2 linked regions of the Homo sapiens genome follow. The protein of the gene in region 1 purifies or fractionates together with the protein of each later gene. This does not show direct contact. Each region holds a gene or a part of one and is shown in the gene's direction. Other genes may lie near its edges.

What was found.
Region 2: the proteins of ORC4 (region 1) and LACC1 purify together in Homo sapiens (affinity purification with mass spectrometry; 3 studies listed by BioGRID and IntAct, with this or other methods). This does not show direct contact.

What each region holds. Positions count from the first base shown.
Region 1 is NC_000002.12:147,929,823-147,933,975, reverse strand, and holds the end of ORC4 (origin recognition complex subunit 4), read left to right. Parts: 3' UTR 1-3,580; downstream 3,581-4,153. UniProt on the Homo sapiens protein: Component of the origin recognition complex (ORC) that binds origins of replication. DNA-binding is ATP-dependent. The specific DNA sequences that define origins of replication have not been identified yet.
Region 2 is NC_000013.11:43,882,686-43,889,996, forward strand, and holds part of LACC1 (purine nucleoside phosphorylase LACC1), read left to right. Parts: intron 1-1,085; coding exon 1,086-1,251; intron 1,252-2,233; coding exon of another isoform or gene 2,234-2,283; exon of another isoform or gene 2,284-4,105; intron 4,106-6,071; coding exon 6,072-6,297; intron 6,298-7,311. UniProt on the Homo sapiens protein: Purine nucleoside enzyme that catalyzes the phosphorolysis of adenosine, guanosine and inosine nucleosides, yielding D-ribose 1-phosphate and the respective free bases, adenine, guanine and hypoxanthine.

The sequences.
Region 1 (4,153 bases):
TTTCTGAGCATAAAGTAGCTCTTCAGTAGTTACAACCTATTCTTTTGCATACATAGCCTTTCCTTCCCTGCAAAAAGTTAAGCCTGCTAAGTATTCAGATCCCTGTCATTTACTTCTCAGCAGTCTCATTCAAGCTAAGGCTTGCATACTCAATCTGTGCCGTAGTCTACACATTTTTAGGGGATATTTCACCAAAATACTTGACATGGTAACATCACTATTATATACTAGAAGCAAGAATTTTACACTTATGCTCTAAGTGATCCTTTTAAAAATTTTCTGAACTATTTGAGGAAAGTATTATTTGTCTTAAAGGGTAACAGCCTCATGAAATGACTTGAGGATTCCAATTTCTTATTAGCTTAAGATGTCACTTAAAAGCTGACAGCCCTCATCTGTCTCATTGGCTACATAAGAGCTGCAGAAGATCCATCAATAACCAAGTATAAAGAAAGATTTTAAGACTAAGTACCAATTGAGGTAAACATGAAACCGTTATAAAGCAAATTAAAAAAAAATACATTAGGAAAAGTTACACAAATGAAGTGTACGCCTATTATATTCCCAAGGCATTTTTGTGGGGAGGAACAGTGCTGCTTGTTGGCCTTTCCATATTCCCTCATACAAAAATGCTAAAATCTATTCGCAAGAGTTTTGAGCTAACTTCGTCTCTTAAATTGCTTTAATTGTCATCAATAAAAACAAATATGAAAAACCCTAGTTTAAAAAGCGGTTCAAGAATAATGTAAACTTATACATATAGCTTATTTTCTTCATTTACTAGAGGAGGAAAAATAGAACCAAAAAATGCATGAACTCCTGCTTTTCAATCTGATTACCTCAAACTGAAAAGCAGGTGAAAGGAGGAATATTTCAGTGTGTTTTTACATCTGAATCCAAGGGATCCAAGTGGCCCAGCAGAAACGGAATTCTTGTTAAAATGACTGATTCTCGTGCATGTGAAAGGCTCTGGGGAATGAATACCTGTTTGGTCCAAACTTACTGTATCATAATGCTGTATATGTTGAAAACGTAATACCTGTTAATGTCCTAATGAATCACGTTTTGCAGAAAACACCGTAAGAAACACTTCAGTCTTTCTGTAGTTTCCATGCATATTTCACCATGGTTCGCACTCTGATCCTCATCTGGTTTAGAAAGCAATTCAGTTTCTTTCAAACCACCATAACCTAAGTGCTGCCCCATCCTTCACCTTTACCCTAGAAAATCTGAGAATCCATTGGTGTGTACTGTGTGACACAATGCCAACAAGCCTCTGGTTTCTAATACTGGCAGGACCAACACACATACTTTAGTGGGAATATAATCTGTTTAGACGATAATAGAGGGAAATGCCATAATTAACAAATCTCCCTTCACTCACCACTATCCTCATTCTTGCAGTTGTCAAGGTGTAAGCCTCACTGTAAGTTACAAAGCTACCACTCCCCTCTTTAAGAACACATAGCTTAGGATTGCCTTGGCGATGTGGGCTCTTTTTTGGTTCCATATGAACTTAAGTAGTTTTTTCCAATTCTGTGAAGAAAGTCATTGGTAGCTTGATGGGGATGGCATTGAATCTGTAAATTACCTTGGGCAGTATGGCCATTTTCACAATATTGATTCTTCCTACCCAAGAGCATGGAATGTTCTTCCATTTGTTTGTATCCTCTTTTATTTCCTTGAGCAGTAGCTTGTAGTTCTCCTTGAAGAGGTCCTTCACATCCCTTGTAAGTTGGATTCCTAGGTATTTTATTCTCTTTGAAGCAATTGTGAATGGGAGTTCACTCATGATTTGGCTCTCTGTTTGTCTGTTGTTGGTGTATAAGAATGCTTGTGATTTTTGTACATTGATTTTGTATCCTGAGACTTTGCTGAAGTTGCTTATCAGCTTAAGGAGATTTTGGGCTGAGACGATGGGGTTTTCTAGATATACAATCATGTCGTCTGCAAACGGACAATTTGACTTCCTCTTTTCCTAATTGAATACCCTTTATTTCCTTCTCCTGCCTAATTGCCCTGGCCAGAACTTCCAACACTATGTTGAATACGAGTGGTGAGAGAGGGCATCCCTGTCTTGTGCCAGTTTTCAAAGGGAATGCTTCCAGTTTTTGCCCATTCAGTATGATATTGGCTGTGGGTTTGTCATAGATAGCTCTTATTATTTTGAAATACACCCCATCAATCCCTAATTTATTGAGAGTTTTTAGCATGAAGGGTTGTTGAATTTTGTCAAAGGCTTTTTCTGCATCTATTGAGATAATCATGTGTTTTTTGTCTTTGGCTCTGTTTATATGCTGGATTACATTCATTGATTTGCGTATATTGAACCAGCCTTGCATCCCAGGGATGAAGCCCACTTGATCATGGTGGATAAGCTTTTTGATGTGCTGCTGGATTCGTTTTGCCAGTATTTTATCCAGTTAGAATGGCAATCATTAAAAAGTCAGGAAACAACAGGTGCTGGAGAGGATGTGGAGAAATAGGAACACTTTCACACTGTTGGTGGGACTGTAAACTAGTTCAACCATTGTGGAAGTCAGTGTGGCGATTCCTCAGGGATCTAGAACTGGAAACACCATTTGACCCAGCCATCCCATTACTGGGTATATACCCAAAGGACTATAAATCATGCTGCTATAAAGACACATGCACACGTATGTTTATTGTGGCATTATTCACAATAGCAAAGACTTGGAACCAACCCAAATGTCCAACAATGATAGACTGGATTAAGAAAACGTGGCACATATACACCATGGAATACTATGCAGCCATAAAAAATGATGAGTTCATGTCCTTTGTAGGGACATGGATGAAATTGGAAATCATCATTCTCAGTAAACTATCACAAGAACAAAAAACCAAACACCGCATATTCTCACTCATAGGTGGGAATTGAACAATGAGATCACATGGACACAGGAAGGGGAATATCACACTCTGGGGACTGTTGTGGGGTGGGGGGATGGGGGAGGGATAGCATTAGGAGATATACCTAATGCTAGATGACGAGTTAGTGGGTGCAGCGCACCAGCATGGCACATGTATACCTATGTAACTAACCTGCACAATGTGCACATGTACCCTAAAACTTAAAGTATAAAAAAAAAAAAAAACATAGCTAAAGAAAAACTGCATATGCAAATCATACCGTATTCATTTTTTTATTTAACTTGGGGATGGAATGGGGATAGCATACATTTTATTTGTACAATATTTAACAATCACTTATCCAAGGTGGGGTTTTATGGGGATTTTAAGCTTTCTGTTAAATACTTGCAGAAAAAATAGCAAGTACGATTTGACAGTAGTACAATAACCTGTGCCCAAAACACAAGAAATACAGAGTAAAGCGAAAATAACTGCTTACCAATATTCTGAGAGGTAACAAATGGGATATGGGTTGAGACTGCATAAAAAACGTACTGCTGGTTGAATATCTGAGGTAAATGATGTTCAATCAAGATGCTACTTGTATCATTTTGCCCATAAATGGATAAATAATTTTATGCATATCATACCAAATGTTCCTAAAAAGTAATCTTTCAAAAAAGTATAAAAGAGAAACTGGAAAGTATCTGTGATGAAGCTTCTTTCTTTAAAAAAAAAAAAAAAAACAAAAAAACCAGTAATCAGTTTATTCCACTAAACCACCATCTCGCCATGGTTTTTTTTCCCCTACCACCTGCATTTTACTTAAATGTAGCTGTTACTTAGGGGTGAGGAAATGCAACAGAAGAGATTCTTTTTAAATTTCATGATATGATTCTATTTTAAATTCCAAAGGTGTTGGGTTTTTTCCTGATTGTATTTTCAAAACATCACCATGAAAGATAGATAGTGCAAGTTCATGGGACTAACAATCGTGAAGCACAGTCTCTTTTTCTGGAATTCACAAGGTACCTAGAATTCAAACAAGAATCACACATCACATGCTAAAAAAACTTCTAGCATCTAAAATACATACAAGAGCTGTGCAGGGCATAGACTTCAAATAAAGCCGAACACTGGTTAATCCATCAGTCCTATGGCAAGTTGATCATAAAGCATTCCTTACGCGGAGATCTGGGCAAGGTAAAGAGTATAAGTTAGAGCAGCAGCAGTTCTGATGGGTATCAGAAAGGCAAAATACAAGACGAGTCATGAGGAG
Region 2 (7,311 bases), on another chromosome or scaffold:
TAATTGATATAAATAAGAATAAAGTTTCTAAGGCATATTTCTTGTCACAAAAACATCACCAAACTTCTAAATAAAGACCAACACATTCCTAGTATTAAACATTGAAATAAATGTGAGCTAGACATATATTTACAAAACAGTAAGAAAGACAAATAAGATAACTACCAAATTATTTCGGTTCAGGGCTTTAGGTAGCTGGAGTCTATTCTGGCAGATCAGGATGCAAGGCCACAACCCACCCTCGACAGGACACCATTCCATTGCAGGGTGCCCTTACACACACACACACGTACTCATGCTGGGACCATGTAGACACCCCAATTCATCTAACATGCACTTCTTTGGGATGTGGGAGGAAGCTGGAGTACCCAGAGAAAACCCATGTGGACGTGAGGAGAAGGTGCAAACCTCACACAGTCAGTGACCGGGTGGGTAATCAATTTTTTTCATTAACATTATAATGAAATGATGTGGAATAAAATGACATTATTCAAGAGCCTACTGTATATTTCATCTGGAGTCCTCAATTCTAAAAGTACAGTTAATTCTCAGAGAGTATACTACCACTGCTCTTTTTGATTTAGAAGAAAGGGAACTGAATGGTGGTAGAGAAAGGCCATTATTTTATAAATCTACTCCAGGAGGAACTAGGGTCATAGTTGATGAGATAATGTCTTGTTCCTTACAGAATTCTAGCTTTACTTGAGTCTTGGAAAAGTAAAAGTATCATTGATTTGTTAATTAACTTTCCTTTACAAGAAAAATTTTCATTTTGTAGAAAGTGCTATAAGAAATGATATACCTATCTTTATGGAAAGATGTTCATTATTCACTATATTGAATTTTATAATGTTAAACTCTGCTTTTCTTTGCATAAACTATCAGAGATTATAATCTAAAATCTTAAATAGTTAAATTATAAGTAAATTTTGTGTTTTCCCATATATAAAAGTGATATATTTAATGAATGCTAGTAATCTTAAACTGGTTATATAATTTTATACTACAATGAGTACCTTCGAGAAAGCTTATGGTATAAGAAATACTATTTCCAAAACATTTTTGTTGCACATTTTTGGTATTAGACTCATCATTCCAATGACATCTGGATTATGGGAAGAAAGGAGCCTGACTCTTATGATGGAATAACCACAAATCAGAGAGGAGTCACAATAGCAGCTCTTGGTGCAGACTGTATACCGATAGTTTTTGCAGATCCAGTCAAAAAAGCATGTGGGGTTGCTCACGCTGGTAAGTATACTTAATTAAACATTTAGAATTTTACTCATTTTGTTGTGCAGGAAAAATTGTAATTTCTTTCTGATGGACATGGCAAACAGTTAATTACATTACACTGTGGTAAGTGTAATGATGGGAGAGGCGGCATAGTTTTATTATAGGGACAGCTAAGAGGAGTATCTGCATCAAATTATATGAATTATAGTAGAATTCCCAAAGGAGGTGGCACCTAGGTTGATTCCTGAGGAATTTGTTGGTTTTGGCTGGGTAACAGTGTTCCTTAGCAAGGGTGCTATTAACATTTTGGGCAGGATAATCCCACATTGCAGATTAAGTGTCTTTAGCCCCTGAAATCCTTAATGACAGTAGCACCTCTAGTTACTGTAATAACCAAGACCAACCAACCAACCAATCAAACAACAACGAAACCCTCCAAGCTTTTCAAAACACTCCCTAGGGGAGTGGTACTGCCTCTGGTTGAGAATCCTTGAAATCCAGGCCATAGGAAATAGGAATGTTAGGCATGTTGCAGAGAAGTGTTCACCCAGATGGAGCTGCATGTGTAAAGCTAGGGAGGTAGGAAAAAGCAAGATGTTTTGAAAACTGTTTTTAGTTTACATCACTTAATGTATTTAACTGTAACTATTCTCTGAGAGCAAAGAAGTATTTTTAGAAGGTATATTGTGTTAAGGATATGGAATTTTGTTTTCTGAAGGTATTTTAAAATAGTATTTTAGATTACCCCATAGCTGTGATTTTGTGTGAAATGAGGGATGATCTTTAAAATTTCCTTCTACTTGTAAATCTATGGCTACTTTGCTTTTTAGCTCATAGGTAAAAAAGAAAGTAGCATATTTTTATTTTGACCTAGCTGAAATAATGGGATTGAATGAGTAGAAGTCAGGTTTACTACATGACATTGTCAAAAAGTTATTTAAAATTTGAGTCTTGGCTCCTGGATATAAAAAGAGGATATTATTTTTTTACTTCTTAGGTTCGAAAACATTTAGTTTAAACATATCCAAGATCAAGCAGTCAAAATGAAGTTATAAATGTGAATTTCAAGTCATTAATAAGTTAATTTTGAAAGAATAAAATACCTAGGAATACAGTTACCTTAACCAAGGAGATTAAAGGTCTCTACAATGAGAAGTACAAAACACTGCTGAAAGAAAGCAGAGATAATATAAACAAATGGAAAAACATTCCATGCTCATGGATAGGAAGAATCAATATTGTTAAAATGGCCACACTGCCCAAAGCAATTTATAGATTCAATGCTACTCCTATCAAACTACCAATGTCATTTTTCACAGATTTAGAAAAAACTATTTTAAAATTCACATGGAACCAAAAAAGAGCCCAAATAGCCAAAGCTATCCTAAGCAAAAAGAATAAAGCTGGAGGAGTCATATTGCCTCCCTTCAAGCTGTACTCCAAAGTTACAGTTACCAAAACAGCATGGTACTGGTACCAAAACTGACACATAGGCCAATAGAACAGGATAGAGAACCTAGAAATAAAGCCACACACCTACAACCATCTGATCTTTGACAAAGTCGACAATAACAAGCAATGAGGAAAGGAATCCCTGTTCCATAAATGGTGCTGGCATAACTGGCTAGCCATATGTAGGAAATTGATACTAGATCCCTTCCTTTCACCATATACAAAAACTAACTCAACATGGGTTAAAGACTTAAACATATAGCCTAAAACTATTAAAACCCTAGGAGGAAACCTAGGAAATGCCATTCTGGACATAGGCATAGGCCTTGGCAAAGATTTCATGGTGAAGACTTCAAGAGCAAACAAAAACAAAAATAGTCAAGTGGGACCCAATTAAACTAAGGAGCTTCTGCACAGCAAAAGAAACTATCAACAGAGTAAACAGAAAACCTACAGAATTGGAGAAAATATTTGCAAACTATGCAGCTGAAAAGGTCTAACACCGAGACTCTATAAGGAACTTAAATCAACAAACAAATAACAATCAATCCCATTAAAAAATGGGCAAAGGACATGAACAAACGCTTCTCAAAAGAAGACTTACACGTGGTCAACAAGCATATGAAAAAACGCTTGATATTACTAATCATTAGAGAAATGCAAATCACAACTACAATGAGATACCATTTCATACCAGTCAGAATGGCTGTTATAAAAAAAGTCAAAAAACAACAGATGTTGGTGAGATTGTGGAGAAAAGGAAATGCTTACACACTGCTAGTGGGAATGTAAATTAGTTCAGCCACTGTGGAAAGCAGTTTGTATATTTCTCAAAGAACTTAAAATTAGAACTACCATTCAACCCAGCAATCCCATTACTGGGTATATACCCAAAGGAATATAAATTATTCTGCCATAAAGACACATGCACACGTATGTTCATCACAGCACTTTTCACAATAATGAAGACATGGAATCAACTTAGATGCCCATCAGTGGTGGACTGGATAAAGAAAATATGGTACATATACATAATGGAATACTATAAAGCCATAAAAAAGAATGAAATCATATCCTTACAGCAACATAGATGCAGCTGGAAGCCATCCTAAATGAATTAATGCAGGAACAGAAAATCAGATACCATATGTATCCTTTAAGTGGGAGCTACACATTGAGTACACATGGACACAAAAAAAGGGACAATGGACATGGGGGCTTACTTAAGGGTGGTGGGTGGGAGGAGGGTGACGACTGAAGAACTGTCTGTTCGGTACTATGTCCACTACTTGGGTGATGAAATCGTTTGTACACGAAACCCCAGTGACATGCAATTTACCCATGTAACAAACCTGCATATATGTACCCCGAACCTAAAAAGTTGGAAGAATAAAAATAAATTAACTTTAAAATATAATATAATTAGCTACATTGTATACTACTTTTATCAGATATCAAAAAGAATAAAATTCTTCTATGGGACTAATTTAATAAAGATCTTTTAACTAGATATGTATATATAGATAGGCATAGAAAAATCAAATAGAAAGGAGGTGGATGAACTACAAGTGAGAGGATAACTAAGGAGGCTCACTGAGGAAGAGAGCTACTCTCATCTGTAGAAAAGCCCTGACAGTTTCTCTCTTTAACTCAAAATGCCTATATCTAGTTGCTTCCCTTTGAACATCACTGTCTGCATCTTCCTAGGTGCCTGAAAATCATTATGTCAAAAACTCAACATTTTTTTCCTAAAGTCTTCTCTGCCAGTTAGGTTTCCTGTTTTAATTATTGATATCCTACCCACTTACAGATAGAAACTTGATGTCTTCATTCTGTACTTCCCATAACCACATATTCAGTGGGTTACCTGTAGAGGCTGAACCTGTCACCTAAGTCCTTCTTGCTTTCATCATCTCCTTTTATCTGTAAAAATTGATCCCTTCACCTGAGTGCCTACCTTTTGAAGGGTATGAGTATGGAGTGCTTAAGGAAGGTGTAAGGGTACTCATTATTGGCCAACCATATCAGCTGAATCAAACCCAGATATAGGGAATAAAGGAAAAATGCAATATTCTTAGCTTTCTGTCTTTGGCAACAAGAAGGTAGCATAAGTAAAGAAGATGGTTTTATCTTAGAACACTGTAAGATGCAAGGCAGATAAGACAAAGATGGCAAGGGAACGATAGTCTGGGCAAGTGGGAAGGGAGTAAAAAGAGGCTGTTAATTGAAATATAATAGATATATTTTTGTAAAAAGGGAGAGATGAAAACTGCAAAACATTGCTGAAGGACATTAAAGAAGACACAAATAAATGCAGAGAAATTCTGTGTTCATGGATTAGAAGTTAGAGAAACGCAAATCAAAACCACAGTGAAATATCACCCCACATCCATTAGGATGGCTAATATTTTAAAACCTCAGAAAATAAGTGTTGTTGAGGATATGGAGAAGTTGAAATCCTGGTGCACTGGTGGTGGGAATGTGAAATTGTGTAGCCACTATAGAAAACAGTATGGCAATTTCTCAAAAAATTATAAATAGATTACCATATAATCCAGAAATTCCTCTTCTGGAAGTATATCCAAAATAACTGAAATCAGGAACTCAAAGAGATATTTGCACACCAATGTTGATAACACGATTATTCGCAATAGCCAAAAGGTGAAAGCAATCTAAGGTACATTGGTAGATGAATGGATAAGCAAAATGTGTGTGCATACAATGGAATATTATTTAGCTTTAAAAAGGCAGGATATTCTGACACATACTACAATATAGATGAACCTTAAGGACATTATGCTAAGTGAAATCAGTCAGTCACAAAAAGATAAATACTGTATTGATTTCACTTATATGATATACCTACAGTAATCAAATGTACAGGAACTGGAAGAAGAATGGTGATTGCCAGGGGCTGGTAAAAGGAAGAAACAAGGAGTTATTGTTAATAGTTGTAGAGTTTCCATTTTATCAAATGAAAAAATTCTGGAGATTGGTTATACAACAATGTGAGTTCAACACTACTGAACTGTATACTTAGAATAGTATTTTTTTGTGGTTATAATAGTAAATTTTGTGGGTTTTTAACCACAATCTTTTAAAATGTGAAAAATAGAAGACTAAGAAGCTATGATCTCAGTGGAAACTAAAAGTATAGAGCATCTTTAAATGGAAGATGAAGAAAACTCCCATTACATGTCTCTTCTGTGTCAGGTGCTTTGTGTAGTATGGCTCATTTAAAAACCACATGATAATGTAATTTATTATTTCTGGACTTTGAAAAATATACAAACTAAATCTGCTCACTTTTAACTTAGACATAAATTCAGGTGAAATTTTTTATGTTTTGACTTCTCTTATCTCTTTTTATTCCTATTTACCAGGTTGGAAAGGTACTTTGTTGGGTGTTGCTATGGCTACAGTGAATGCTATGATAGCAGAATATGGCTGCAGTTTGGAAGACATTGTTGTTGTACTTGGACCTTCAGTAGGACCTTGCTGTTTTACTCTTCCAAGGGAATCAGCAGAGGCATTTCATAATCTTCATCCTGCATGTGTACAACTATTTGATTCACCAAATCCCTGTATCGACATCCGTAAAGCCACAAGGTATGTCTGATTTCATTCAACTGCAAGTTTGATTATTTCTGATTGTTCTAAAATGAAATTTATTTTGGAGAACAATTAATAACTCTAAGAAGAATTTAGGTGGTGGTTATTTAAGCAGCTGACATGCACATGTACACAAACACTCATTTTAAATATGAAATCTGTTTTCATTTGAGTTTGAATAACAGAAATTTTCCTGTCTGGTATCTTTCATTGATTTAAAAGTGAAGGAAGAAATATTTGGCATTTAATTTTAAGAGATCTACTTAAACTTCATATAGAAAAGTTGGCGTGTACTTTACTTCACAGCCATTCCTCAGCTAAATTCTCCTAAATGTAATGAACTATCAGGAAGCTGATATTTTAAAATTATTCTTATTATCTAATTAACTAGAGGAATATGTTTTTTAGAAAAAATATTAGATAATATAAATACACGGTTTTTTACTTTTAAGTTTTTTACAGTTCTTCGCATCTTTTAATTTACAAGGTTTTGTTATTAATAACTGGTGAAAATTATTTGTCATTACTACAAAGGCAAATTAATGTATGTTTTAAATCATGTTTCTATTCCAGTCGCCAAAACTTTACCCAGAGTCTGCCTCATTTAGTACAGATGTGGAAAAGTTTGAAATTGATTCTTAAATGTGACTTTTAAAATCAAGTATCACTAACTTGTAGTCATATTTCATATCATAAAGTGTTCATGGAGAAGCAAGTTTTCTGAGAAAAATCTGGCTAATAGAAGGAAAGGAGATGAAGGGCCAGATGACTAAAAAGCATACTCTGGCTGAGCCAGGTGAATTTTGCCTGATATCCTGGTAACTTTTGTAGACATTTCTTCTTAAATAAGCACTTGATTTTGATTATAAAATTCTGTACCTAGATTATGTCTATAAGACAATATGGAAGGTTGTACTGTGCATATATGAACTTAGGTGATAAATGCTGATAAAGTGTAGCATTTTTTTCCCTGACTAGTCCATGTTCTGTAAGTGAATAACAATATACATT